Homo sapiens: one gene and its partner. The protein of the gene in region 1 interacts with the protein of each later gene in a biochemical or structural test. Each region holds a gene or a part of one and is shown on either strand. Other genes may lie near its edges.

Region 1 (5,730 bases):
CCAAAAACTCCTACAAAGTGGGTATCATTGCATCCCTTTTTTTTTTTTTTTTTTTTTAGAGATAGGGTCTCACTCTGGCACCTAGGCTGGAGTGCAGTGGCACAATCTCAGCTTACTGCAGCCTCTACCTACTGGACTCAAGCGATCTTCCCACTTCCACCTCTAAGTAGCTGGAGCTATGGACAGGCACCACCATACCTGGTTAATTTTTTGTATTTTTTTTTTTATAGAGATGGGGTTTTGCCATGTTGCCTGGGCTGGCCTCAAACTCGTAAACTCAAACAATCTGCCCACCTTGGCCTCCCAGAAAGCTGGGATTAGAGGCATGTGCCCGGCCACACCCCATTTTATAGATGACAGAATTTGAGACTCAGAAAGGTTAATTAATTTGCCTAGGGTCACACATCTAGCACATGCAAACCTACCTGTGTCATGCTCCAAACGCCTGGCAGGGAGGAGACGGACTTACGAGTTTCAAACACGGTTGGTTTTCACCCCTGAGCTAGTCAGGCAAGAGTAGAGTCAGCCAAAGAAGACTAGGTACACACCCACCACACACAGAACTCCCATAAAAGTCCCAGTGTCTGAGGCAGAAGCCTCAGAACGTTAGTGAGAAACAGTGTCCACCAGCAGCTCTCTCAGCCTGACAAATGGAAGTCATTAGCCCAGGCCACCGGAAATCTGAGCGGTGTAAAATATGGCCGCAGGACCAGGGGCCTTGACTGTTTCCGCTGACAGTGTTGTTAATATCTCCATTTTAGTGGGTGATTTGTCTCCACCTCTTCACGAGTGATGAATCCACTGGCACTCTGGAACCTTTAAGCCTGGGGTAAAGGCGGCTAGAACATTCTCTTTCTTCCACCTTTGCTCATTCTCTCCCAGAAAAATGAATCACACTCTTTTTTTTTTTTTTTTTTTTTTTTTTTTTTTTTTTTTTTTTTGAGACAGAATCTCACTGTGTCGCCCAGGCTGGAGTGCAGTAGCATGATCTCGGCTCACTGCAACCTCCACCTCCCAGGTTCAAGCGATTCTTGTGCCTCAGCCTCCTGAGTAGCTGGGATTACAGGCATGAGCCACCACATGTGGCTAATTTTTTGTAATTTTAATAGAGACGGGGTTTTGCCATGTTGGCCAGGCTGGTCTCGAACTCCTGACCTCAGGTGATCCGACCACCTCAGCCTCCCAAAGTACTGGGATTAGAGGTGTGAGCCACCACACTCAGCCAAATTACACTCTTTAAAGAGGGCAGGATTGGCCAGGTGGCAACCAGAATCTATCTTTGCAAAGAAAGGAGGGCTTGGCCGGGATGAGGGCAGGGTGGGAATGCTAGGGCAGTGAGAAGGCGTTGAAGAGATGAGAGCTGTTCCCATAGGAGATGGTTTTCTGCTTCCCTTGAGCTGAGAATTGTTTAGAAACTACAGAACAAAGAGAAAAGGATACATTCAGAGGACTTTGCTTGAGAAACTTACCTTCTTTTTTTCCCTCTCTCTCTTCCTCTTTTCATTCCTTCTACGAATATTTCTTGAGCACCTACTATGTGTCAAGAGCCATGCGGTGCAGCAATGAGCATTGCATTCCAAGCTCAACCTTCCTGGGGCCTTTGCACTTGCTGTGTCTTCTACCTGCCCCCACGTTCCCCCACATCTTTGCCAGGGCCTGCTTAAATGACACTCCCTGGAGAGGCCTTTCCTGACCCAGCTCTCAAAAGTAGACACACAAAGCTGCTTTCTACCCTATCTCATTCTGTTTCCTTCCTAGCACTTACCAGGAGATGAACTTATCTTGTTTATTTCTTATCTGTGGGTTTATCTGAGCCTCCAATGAAAGCCCCATAAGTGTTTGTGACCTGTACAGAAGGCCCCACTGGGGTCTGCCCCTGGCATCTTTATAGATCTTCCTTTGCTCACTGAGGGATTCTCAATCTGGGATGCCCTTCCCTTCAGTGACCTGCTAACTATGAAGCACTTATTCTTTTTTTTTTTTTTTTTTTTTTTTTTTTGAGATGAAGTTTCACTCTTGTTGCCCAGGTTGGAGTGCAGTGGCATGATCTCAACTCACTGCATCCTCTGCCTCCTGTGTTCAAGTGATTCTCCTGCCCCAGCCTCCCAAGTAGCTGGGATTACAGGTGGCCACCACCACGCCCAGCTGATTCTTGTATTTTAGTAGAGATGGGGTTTCACCATGTTGGCCAGGCTGGTCTCAAATTCCTGATTTCAGGTAGTCCACCCGCCTTGGCCTCCCAAAGTCCTAGGATTACAGGCGTGAGCCACCACGCCCGGCCTCCTCATTCGTTCTTCAAGGTCTGGGTCTCATGCGCTTCTTGTCCCCTGAGACACCCCCATCCCATTCACTTCTACCAAAAAAGAGGCTGCTTCCTCTGGCTGGCTCCCATGACATTTTATTTACACCTGCCTTAATGATTTCTTTACATTCTTCCTAAGGTAGTCTTATTTATTATCTTTTAAACTACTGAGAAACGCCAGCATTCTTTCTTCCATATACATGCACATATATATACAATTTGTCCTGCATCCTTCCTTTTTCCTATTTACCTAGATATGTCCCTAGCTACTCAGGAGGCTGAGTCAGGAAAATCAGTTGAGCCCAAGAGATCAAGGCTGCAGTGAGCCATGATCTGCATTCCAGCATGGACAACAAACTGAGACTCCATCTCTAAAATTAAAAAAAAAAATTAATGAAACGAAATTCAGCTGGGCACAATGGCTCATGCCTGTAATCCCAACACTTTGGGAGGCTGAGGTGGGTGGATCGCTTGAGCCCAGTAGTTTGAGACCAGCCTGGTCACCATGGTGAAACCCTATCTCTACAAAAAATACAAAAATTAGCCAGATGTGGTGGCATGCATCTGTTGTCCCAGCTACCCGGGAGGCTAAGGTAGGAGGATCGCTTGAGCCTGGGAGGTTGAGGCTGCAGTGAGCAGAGATCATGTCACTGCACTCTAGCCTGTCTCAAAAGAAAGAAAGAAAGAAAAAAAAAACTCCACATCATGACAATAACTTGAAGCAGGTACCACCTGCTGCAAAGAAAAGGAAAAGATAAAAACGAAAGCTATAAAGAAAACAGATTAGTGTCATCTGACCTGGCTAGCTACAGTGGCCTGCTGAAGACTCTCCAAGACCAGCTCTGTTTGTTCACAGTGGAGACTGTCAATGCTGGGGAGGGGTTCCAGCACCGAGCTGTGACTTTCTTCTTGAAGTAACAGGATTCAGAGCACTGCAGCCTCCAATTCCCGGCCTCAAGCAATCCTCCCGCCTCAGCCTCCCAAAGTGCTGGGATTACAAACGTGGGCCACAGTGCCCAGGCAAGAACAAATTTTTAAAAAGGAATCGCTTTCCCATTGTGCAATTTAACACCATGTCAGTGCACCGCCTAAGACCACGCTGGTACCAACAGAGGCGAGAGGGTCAAACAGCGAACACGCTGGGCAGTGCTGGATAAGCCCGTCAGAGCAGGCTCTGAATAGAAATGGTTGGCCATACTGGTGGGTACTGGCCAGATGTGGGTCTGCCAGCAACATCAAGTGCCCCATAGTTTGGGAAGTCCCCACGTGCTAGACTTAACTGGGTTGACTTCTCACATGCCCTCTAACCACAGGCGTGGAACCCGGGGGCAGGGGCGGGGCCATAACCTTGTGGCTGGTGTTCTGTGTTTCAGCACAACATGCCTTTCTGGCGGATATCCTGCCACGCAGACCTGGAGGCACTGAGGCACGCCCTGGAGCTGGAGTATTTATAGCAGGATCAGCAGCATCTCCACCTGCCATCTCACCCTCAGACCCCCTCGCCTTCCCCACCTCCCCACCGAGAACTCCAGAGACCCAGATGTTGGACACCAGGAAGGGGCCCCACAGCCGAGACGACGTGTCCAGTGACCATCTCAGAAGCCGTCCATCAGTCCAAATGGGGGTTCTGAGAAGGAAAGTACCCAACATTGGCTTCGGAGTATTTGACTTTGGGGAAAAGGGCTGGCTCGGAGTCTAGACTCTTCTGTAAGACTCACAGAACAAAAGCAAGGAATTGCTGATTTGGGGGGTGCCTGGTGATGAGGAGGGGATGGGTTTGTCTTGTCTTCTTTTTAATTTATGGACTAGTCTCATTACTCCGGAATTATGCTCTTGTACCTGTGTGGCTGGGTTTCTTAGTCGTTGGTTTGGTTTGGTTTTTTGAACTGGTATGTGGGGTGGTTCACAGTTCTAATGTAAGCACTCTATTCTCCAAGTTGTGCTTTGTGGGGACAATCATTCTTTGAACATTAGAGAGGAAGGCAGTTCAAGCTGTTGAAAAGACTATTGCTTATTTTTGTTTTTAAAGACCTACTTGACGTCATGTGGACAGTGCACGTGCCTTACGCTACATCTTGTTTTCTAGGAAGAGGGGGATGCTGGGAAGGAATGGGTGCTTTGTGATGGATAAAAGGCATTAAATAAAACCACGTTTACATTTTGAAGTGGGGTAGGATGTGGTTACTTTATTACCACTCTTGAGGCTTCCAAATGTGTTGTCCTTTTTAAAGACTTTATCAGTTGCAGAAGAATAGAATCCAACTCACACTGGCTTAAGCCAAGAAAAATGGGGTGGGGGGAGGGAGGAAGGAGAAGAGGGAGAAAAGGAGGGAGGCAGAAAGGGAGGGGAAGAAGGACAAAGGGACAAGTGTCTCCAGGAACTTTAGGTGGTATCTGTCTGGATCCGGGTGGTCAAATGAATTTCTCTCATGTGGCCGTAATTCTCAGGCAGGCTGTTCCCTGTGTGGCAAAGACGGCTCTACGAGTCCTTCAGCAAAACCACACAGACAGAAAGAGACCACATTCTTCACCGTGGTGCAGCGAAAGCCTCAGGACTGTAACTCGTTGGCCAAATCTGAGGCTTAGGCAACTCACGGAGCTGGATTTAGGGTTGGATCCTGTCACGAACAGCAAGTTGAACAAGCTGATCCTCCAAGGGAAAGAAAATCAGTGAGCTGTTATTCAAAGAATTGGGGGAATTGAGGGTCGGGCTGGAAAATGCAACTGACTTCCGTTCTAATGGTAGGACTTCATTTCCCAGTGGATGGGACATGAGTGAAGGATCCAGTTTAAGGGGCAAGGAGGGAAATCTGGAGAAGTTCTGAAGACATCTGGAGCACTGCCACTACCCATAGTGGACCAGGCAGGACCTGGGTCTATCTGATTGGATGCTAAGCAGGAATATAGGCTCCTTCCTTATTAATGCTGGTAAAATCGTGGATTATCAGTCAGCTGACCCATGTCATGGGAGATGGAGATCTCTGCCACTGGAGTCTCAGAGCTAGAATCTCTGATGATTAGAAAACTGTCACCGGCCAGGCATGGTGGTGTATGCCTGTAATCCCAACACTTTAGGAGGCCAAGGCATGTGGGTCGCTTGAGCCCAGGAGTTTGAGACCAACCTGGGCAACATGGTGAAACCCCGTCTTTACAAAAAATACAAAAATTAGCTAGGCATATAGCATGCGCCTGTAGTCACAACTACTCAGGAGGCAGAGGTGGGAAGAGCTCTTGAGCCCAGGAGGTTGAGGCTGCAGTGAGCCAGGTTCACACTGCTGCACTCCAGCCTGGGTGACAGAGCAAGACCCTGTCTCAAAAAAAAAAAAAAAAAAAAGGCATCACTAAGGGTCAGATAGACTCCCTTACTAGACCCTGAGCTTCTCAGGGGGTAGGTACTGTTGGTTTCATCTCTATATCCACAGAATCAA
Region 2 (8,617 bases), on another chromosome or scaffold:
CTTCACATTTCTCCATATATAAATTAAAAGGAAATAATGAAAATCCAGTTGATTTGCAATTCCCATTCATTGAAAAAAAAGAAAGGCTGCTGAAACAGGCGTATCAGTTGCCCAGAACTCAGACTGGGTGCCTGGGTGCTTTTGTTTGTTTGGGTTTTTTTTTTTTTTTTTCCCTGATCTCTGCATTGGGAAGGAAAATGCAAAAGTGGAAAGAGTTGGAGAGAAGAGGAGATTAAGCTTGAGATCGCTGTTGGTTTTGATTTTTAAAAAGATATTTGTGAAAGTCCACCATTCCTTTATGCGCAAACAACTCCAGAAACAAGCTGCAAAAATGTTCCTGATTTCTATTTACAAGTGTCCCTAGTCGCTGCAGTGGTTGCTGCTCCAGGAATCCCTTCGAGGCCCCAGTCCCTCCCCACTTAGGACCCCAAGTCCACCAGACTGGAGGTGAGGGGGCCGAGCAGAGAGTCTTGGAGCTGATGCTGGTGGGTCTGCAGGCCGTGACTGGGCTGCGAGGCTGTTAAGCCCGGGAGAGAATAGTTTGAGCTCCTGGCGTGGCCCATATTGCCCTGCAGCAGAAGGACCGAGTTCTGGTCTGGACTTTGGGGAGGTGAGAATTCCTCTTCTGAGCTGGACATGAGCGGCTTGCCCCCTTCCAGAGGAGAGAGTTGGTTCTGCTTGTTGGAGGAGGAGTTATTGTTTTCGGTGTTCTCCCTAAGAAATAGAGGACAACACCATATGGTTAAAAAAAAAAAAAAAAAAAAAAAGTAGGTTAAAAAAAAAGTGTGAGATGGAGGGAGGGGAGCTGGAAGGAGGAAAGGGCCATTGTGCAATCTGTCACCAACCCAAATGGAGGAGCTCTACCCTTCCACCCATCCCCAAGGGTAATGGGGGAGGTGAGGAGTCAGAGGAACCTGGAGAAATGGAGAGCTACGGACAGAGCCTCCTGTTAGGAGCCAGGTCCTTTTCTCTTCCAGATTTCAGAAAGTGATAGATTAGCAGGATTTATTTGAAACATACAAAATATATGTTTTAAATTTTGTTCAAGCAGTTACATTTAAATACATATAAACTAGCAACATATTTAAATGTAACTGAAAATCTTTCAATAAATAGATATTGGTGATAAAGAAATGATAGAGGACAGAGTCCAATGCACAAATGTTTGGGGTGAATCAAGTCCATTGCCTTGTTCGCATATGAGGAGACAATTAAACATCCCGTTTTCCTGCCCCAGCCCAGAGTTGGTGGTTTTGCAGACACAGAACAGGTCATGGGAAGTGGTGCCCAGCGCGGCCCAGTGACCTGAGTAAACACAGGGAGCGCAGCCAGTCTCTGATTTCATCTGGAGTCGGCCCTCGGGCCTGGCTTATAGGACGGCCGTTTTGTAACTAAAGGCTAACTGCAACCATACAATCCCTGTTCCTGTGTTACTTGCTAACTCTTCAGCCCCTCGTGTCCCCCTCTCAAACTTCCTACCAACACCCACCCCAACCCATCCTTTCTGGGCAGGGGAAACTTCGCCGCCCCGCACAGGCTGCCAGCGGGCGCGGCGCGCTGGGGCGTCAGTCCGGGCACTCGGTACCGGTTAACTTCAGGATTTCGCTTCCCTCGCCGCTTCCGCCTTCCGAGTGCTCGTCAGTCCTCCCGACTCCTAGCGCCTGTCTGTCTCCTTTCTTTCCCCTTATCCTCACAGTCTCTGTCTCCCGACAAGCCCATTTCAGCAGAATTTATCCTGGCTCTGGTTTTCCACCAAGACAAGAAAGGGAGCAAGATCTTCGGCCCCTAGTCTTGGAAGCGAACAAAGGAAAACCTAACCGGCCCCTGCGCTCAGGTTTTCCCCCAAACTCTTTGGCTTCGCGGAGCGCTCTCCCCGCCACAGCCACCTCCCCACCGTCCTTCTGAATCTCTGTCCGAAACGCTATAGAGAACAGAAGGAGCCTGCCCAGGTGGCCGAAGGTGTTGCCCCGAGGTGGGGGAAAGTAGAGACCAATTTTTAAAATATTGCCTTGTGAGCTCCAGTGCGAGAGAGGGCTGCGACTGGAGACCCTTTCCTCGTCTGGGCATGCGGCGCGGTCAGCCAGACCGACGGGCTGCAGTGCCGGGCCACGCGCGAGCGAGCACGGCGAGGATCAACCCTTTCTTAATTTGGGGCGCCGGGGAGTAAATGCAGCGCCAACTCTCCCCAAAGCTCTCTTTTTGTTGTATCTTTAAAAGTCTCCTCCATTTGTCCAGCTAGTGAGAAATGAAGCAGGCTACCTCTAAACCAAAAGACTATCAAGAGAGAGCTGTGGAGAACCAGGCGGGAGTGGGGGCAGAGCCAATGTCTCAGGCCAGCTTCACCCCTCTGGGGAGCAAGAGGAGAGAGGTTCGCGAACCTCAGCTCCCACCAAACCCCTTTCCTTGCGACACCAATCAACATTTCACTGCCCGTTGATTTAGAAACTCACTCTCCACCCACCACTCATAGCCGCGGCCAGCCAGGGAGGCATAAAGACCAAATCTAGCGCCAATATTTCCCGACACTCACATCCCAGAGAAACCCACGCGCGGGTGCTCAAAGCAAATGAGGCCCCATCCTTAGCAAGGAACCTCAGAGTTCATGAACTTTCGCTGCAGCGCCGCGGAGGGCCTGCGCGCCGCCCCGTGGACGGGCTCCGGCCGGCGGGGAGGACTTGGTGGCTGGTGCCTGCGGGGGCGGGAGGGGGCGGAGGAGAAAGGACGGCTTCCTAGGGTCGCCCGAGTCGCGGGAAGCACGCCGCGTACCTTTCCTTGGCCTCCGCGGCCCGGTCTCTTTGCCTCCGGTTCTTAAACCAGTTGCTGACCTGGGTGGTGGTGAGGCCGGTGGCCTCGGCCAGCTCCCGCTTCTCACGCGGCGATGGGTAGGGATTGTGCGCGTACCACTCCCGCAGGACACCCCTCGACTTCTCCTTGAAGCAGTAGCTGGTCTCCTCGCCGTCCCAGATGGTGCGCGGCAGTGGAAATTTTCGGCGCACCCGATATTTGCCCACGGCGCCCAGGGGTCGGCCGCGCAGCTTCTCGGCCTCCACGTAATGCGCCTTCAGCCACAGTTGCTGCAGTTTGGGGTGGTTGTGAGGCGAGAACTGGTGGCTCTCCAGGATCTTGTAGAGCTCACGGAAGTTGCCGCGGTGGAAGGCGACCACCGCCTTGGCCTTGAGTACGCTCTCGTTCTTGTGCAGGTGGTCGCAGGCGGGCAGTGACCACAGGAACCTGCCCAGGCGCTCCAGGTTTCCGCCTTGCTGCAGAACCTCGCACACGCACGCCACTTGCTCCTGCGTAAAGCCAAACGACGGCAGCATCGACATGGCTGGGGCCTGCCGGGGCGCACGGCCCAGGCGCACGCGGCAGGGAGCAGAGCCGAGAGGCAGGGGGCGGCGGCCGCAGGGAGGGGGGCGCGGCTGTTCCTAACCTCCTCCTTAGGCTTTGCAAAGGCGAAAACCGGAGTCGGAACTTGGCGGTGGGCGGCCAAGGAAGAGAAGGCGGAGGAGTAGGGGAGGTTCTGGACACGGAACGGCCGGCGCACTCAGTAGCCTTTAAGGCCTTGCTGCCTCCGACCTCCCGCCCGGTGGATGCTGCTAGTTGCCGGGGAACTTGGTTTCTGTTCTCCCCGCAGCGGCCTTAAAGCGCGCAGCGTCCCCGGCACGCTGATTGGCTGCCGGCGGCGCCTATCCGGGGCTGGCCAGCCAGCGCGCCGCCCGGCTGGGCAGAGAGGCCGCACCGCCCAGAGCGGGGAGGGCGAGGCTGCGGAGCTGGGGGTTGGGGGTGTTGCCGGGGCTGCGCGGGTAGGGAGTGGTGGGAGGAGAAGGAAGAGGAAAGGTGGGAAGCCAGTTGGGGTCTGAGGGAGCTGCGCTGCGGAGGTGTGGGGAGGTAGGGAGTGGGTGAGCGCGTCAGGACCCTGCAACGCGGGACCCGTCGCCAGTATCACCTAAGGGGAGTCGCGCACAACTCCGCACAAATCAATGACTCCAAACCTTAATTCCTCCCCTCTCCCTCCGTACTCTTGTCCTCATCCCTTGCAGACTTGCCCTCTCCCGGTGAGCTCATATTTAATTACTTTAATGTTGGAATGAATAAATAATGGATTGATGAATAGCTTATGGAACGCGATAAATAATTCAAGAGCAGACCAGGGTCCGCGCATGCAGCCTCTGGAAGAGTGGCTTCGGGTTGGCTTCAGCTCGAGGAGTCCAACCCTATTTCCTCCTCCCTCCCCCCACCAACTACCACTGTCCTCCCCCCACTGCTGCACACCACCCTCCAAAGGGCACAAGTACTCCCAGTCGGACAGCGTTTCCCTCGTTCACAAAAGACCTCCATGATTTGAGACCAGGCAGAGAGCTGTTTAGAGCATACTTGCTGAGCACCTAGAGACTCCGAGCGTTCATTTGTGATTTGGTATCTTAATGTTCTGCGATTGAAACCAGCAGGTTCCTGAAGCTTCTGGACTCAATTTCCCCATCTGTGCGGTTGTGTTTTGCAGTGCCACCTCTGCTACTGAGGAATGCCGAGAGGCTTTACTTGCTATTAGCAAAAATGCTTTGGGAACCTCGTACGAAAGGCGCTGGATGTGGTGTAAATTAAATAAAACTGTGCCCGGCTCCAATAACCGTCCGGTTGTAATATAATCCTTACCCTGCTCTGAGAGGGACACTGCCCTCAAAGCGAGAACGACAGCGGCTCCAAGAAGATTAAATAAAGAGGTGTGTGTGTGTGTGTGTGTGTGTGTATGTGTGTGTGTGTGTGTGTTGCAATGCTGGCCTATTTTGCTGCCAGGGAATGAGAGATGCACTGCAATTTAAGTCCCATCATCTGCTGTTTTGTTTATGTGTGGAGAATGCTTAGTAAAACTGCACAAACAAGTGAAGTTGTAATTATCTTAAGCCTCATTTGCACACCTAGTTCCAAAGCAATAATTAAAAGGATTTTGAAAACAATTAGCCTCTCTAAACAAAGATAATCTATTGTCAGTAGCTGAGACTAGCAGGAGATAAGAACAATGCGTGGAGATAAGGGAAGCCAAATGGTGGAAGGAGAGTGACTTTATGACTATACTTATCTCTGATTAGATAAGTTCAAAACAGAATTCTAAGTACACTTCAAAAATGCTTTTGATTTCAATGTGCCCTCTTAGTGAGTGGTGAAGAACAAACTGTAGGCTCCTTAAACTGGCTTGTCTTCTTCAAATATGTTTTGATTCCTTTAGCCAAAGAGCCCAGCACTACAGAACCTTTTGCATATTGAGATGCAAGTGGGAGAAGGAGAAGCATGTCTTGGTTTCCTCTTTTATTATTAATATGGTTTTAAAATGATGCACCCAGTACAGTGCACCCTGCAACATACATTCTAAACTCATAAAGGGTTCCCACCTCAGGGCTGCCACATGGGAGATTCCAAGTAGACAGGAAGCTGCTTCTCTGCTGAACATAATGTTTTCTGCATCCTTGAAACTCTTGCTTATTCCATGCAATTAGATCTTGGAAGCAGATGCTGATATTTCATTACCTTAGGCTTTTTTTTTAAAAAAATGCATTTAATAGGTGTGCATGCTTTCAAAAGAGCCTCTGCCATATAGTATGCCCAATGACTTTCTAAACTGGAAGCCTGGCACTGCTAAACCCAGAGCCATGTCTGGTAATTTCCCCTCACTGTCTTATTTTAGTGCTTATGATGTTTCACATGAAGTCTTAAGGAGCTGCAGTGCCCTCCCAGAAGGAATGCCTCTGCTTGAAACAGTCCTTATTGACATGGCAGCTGTGTGAGGACCGGAACGGAGGCTTAAACCCGGCTCTAAAAATCAGTTAATACCCTAAAGTCTGGAGCAAGTGCGCACAATTACAATGGGGGGAGGGTCTTTAAGCACAACCACGTCTCTTAAAAGACAAACAGTATGTTGAGTATGGGGTGTGCTTTGTAATTAACAATTTTGTATAAGGAAATGAGGCATAGCCTGCACAAATAAGGGCAGGTATAAATTTACAGAGGATGACAGCAGAGATGGCAATTAGACACAAATAGGACCACCTTTTTTTCCCGGCTTCCTCCAGACCTACCTGCCCATTTCTTTTTATCTGTCTTCAAAAGGAACCAGGACGTACTACATTGCCGTCATCTGGGAAGACGACGTGTAGAAGGTGTGATTGCGGGAACCCGGGCAGAAAAGAGGTGCTCTTCCTCGGAGGCCGTGACTGGGCCGGCCAACATTTTTCCTCCCGCTTAATCCAATAGATCGCGTAACTGGAAAGGGAAAGTGCTATGCGCTTTATACCAAGGAGTCTACCTGCTATTTCGATCCCTCGGTTAGGGGAACCAATTGTTATAAATGTTAATTATTGGCTCGGATATATAAGGTTTCCCAAAATGGAACCTTTCACTGAAAACCGCTGAAAGAGGTAAAATGACATGAATTTACAAACCACCTAAACTAAATGATCCATTTTAAATCGCACACAGAAAGGTTTGAGTTGTTCTCGTAACATAAAACCTTTGCTGTCAATGCAAATCGCACGAAAAGCAGAGATGCGTTGGAGATTTAAAGGAAATGAGCAACTCTAGCCAGCCGGCTGCTGCCCTCGCTGCAGCGCGGCTCGGGAGGGAACACCGCTGGCAAGGAGCGCCCGATGCCAGGTTTCGGCTCTCCAGTGCCTCCTCTGTGCAGGTAACGGCCGCGTGCGCTTTAGTCGATGAAAAAGCATTCAGTGGGACAGCATTAGCTGTTGCTAGGGTTTCTCGGCTGGGTTGACAGGCCTTGATGCAAACACCCCTAGCTGGGACCCACTTGTTTCCCTTCTGGCTTGTAGCAAGATAGTTAGGGGCTCCCGGGCCGCTTTCTTGGAATTCTTTCACCATCCAGAACGACGGTGAGGATTCTACTCTACCTACAAATATTTGGAAAGGGAGGGCATAGAGAGGTGTTTCTTCAATAAATTCGTGTCATCGCTCTGGGGCAGTGCGGAGACTCCCCAAATCCGGCTGAAGTGCCAAAATTCTTTTTCCTCTGCTTAGTCGGAAACTCCGGGTGCCCTCGACCCTTGGGAACTCCGGCTCCGATGGCCGGCGTGGCGCCGGAGCAGCAGCCCACCTGCTCCTGGGGGACGCCGCTCCCCGCGAGGTCTGAATAGGCCTGGGGCTCAGGCAGAGAGATTTGCGGACTCAGAGAAGAGAAACCCAAAACCAGTCCATTAGTAAATGAGTTTTGTGTTGTCAAGGTTCTTTCCCATCCACTTGCTGTTCTGAAAAATAGATCACGTTTCGTTATCTTTAGTGGGAATCTGCAACGTGACACCGGATCCGCGCGGCCCCCGCCTCCCTCCCTGCCTCGCTCTGCCTGGCTGAGGGGAGCAGGCGGGCCTCCTCAGCTTATTTCTGAACAATGAAGATTTGTCTCTTCCCCAAGTGTATTTATGTATGTATGGAGGGAGGAAGTTTTCTCCTGGAAGCGGGAAGCTCGAGAGCAGAGCCTCCTACTTCTTTGGTGCGAAAACGCTGCGCTGGCCCAAGATTCAGGGCGACTGACGCCCCCCACCACCTCCACCGCCCACACCTGGACAAACAGAGCCAGCTGTGAGCCTGGCTCGCCGCTGAAAACCCTGCCGCCCCGCGCGGCTCCCGAAAATACCATCTCCGTATTGTCTCGAGGTCAGGGAAGGGAGAAAGAGAGAAACACACACAGACTGATGGACCGACTGAGGGTCAAGCACTGGGAGGGAGCTCAGACTGGAGGGGAACAGAGCTGGGGTGTGTGTCTTTGGAAGAGTTATTCTCTCTCTCCCTCTACGTGTGTCCCCGTGGCAGGTCTTTCCCAGAGTGTGTCTCTAACTCTTTTCTCCATCTGAAAGAGGACGCTCGTTCATTCTGTCTGTATGTGAACCTGTTTCTCATTCTCTCTCCTTATCTCTCTCTCTTCTTTCTCATTGTTTTTCCTCTTCCTCTTCTCATCCTCCTCTTTCTTCCTCCTTCCCTCCCTCTCCCTTCCCCTCGGCTCTGGGCGCTCGTTTTTTTCTCTCCGGGACTGGGCGCTGTGAGGTTTCACAGAGTGTGCTTATGTCACCCACTGAGGCAGCGCAGGTAAGTTCTCTTGAAAGTAGACCCTCAAGTCTGGGCGGTGTAGTAGGCCTTACTTGGCGAGAACCTTTCACAGGGAGTGGAGGGCGGGCAATAGATGGTGTAGCCTGCACGGAGGGCGGGCAAAGGTGTATTGGCCACCTAGGGGAGAAAAGGGTTAACAAATTGCCCTCTGAGAAAGCTCTGACCAATCGCCAGGTTTGAGCTAGAAGACCCTACTCAACATCAGATGCCAACTACCTCTCTGGAAAGTGGAGCCAAGGTGTCACAAGAAACAATTCTTAAGAATTAAAGGGACTCTGCGCCCCACCCCCCATTCCCTGTTTTTTAAAATGTCTCCTTAGGGCAGGTTTATGAAATGAAACTCTCCAAAACCGCTATCTTCCATTGAATTTCCAATCAACTTTTTTTTCTCAACTTATGTACATCCTGAATACCACATCTGTCTAAGCTAAAAAGAATTTCCTTTTGGGAGGTGAAAGCCTGCAGCTCCTCCTGTTCAGAGGAAAGTGCTAGTGACGGTAATGCAGGGTGA

Evidence for each region. The genes of interacting proteins can lie anywhere in the genome.
Region 2: the proteins of EYA2 (region 1) and SIX1 form a complex in vitro, tested with the Homo sapiens proteins (2 studies listed by IntAct, with this or other methods).

The regions. Positions count from the first base shown.
Region 1 is NC_000020.11:47,184,378-47,190,107, forward strand, and holds the end of EYA2 (protein phosphatase EYA2), read left to right. Parts: intron 1-3,675; coding exon 3,676-3,756; 3' UTR 3,757-4,467; downstream 4,468-5,730. UniProt on the Homo sapiens protein: Functions both as protein phosphatase and as transcriptional coactivator for SIX1, and probably also for SIX2, SIX4 and SIX5.
Region 2 is NC_000014.9:60,645,864-60,654,480, forward strand, and holds the start of SIX1 (homeobox protein SIX1), read right to left. Parts: upstream 3,615-8,617; 5' UTR 3,327-3,614; coding exon 2,767-3,326; intron 715-2,766; coding exon 420-714; 3' UTR 1-419. UniProt on the Homo sapiens protein: Transcription factor that is involved in the regulation of cell proliferation, apoptosis and embryonic development. Plays an important role in the development of several organs, including kidney, muscle and inner ear.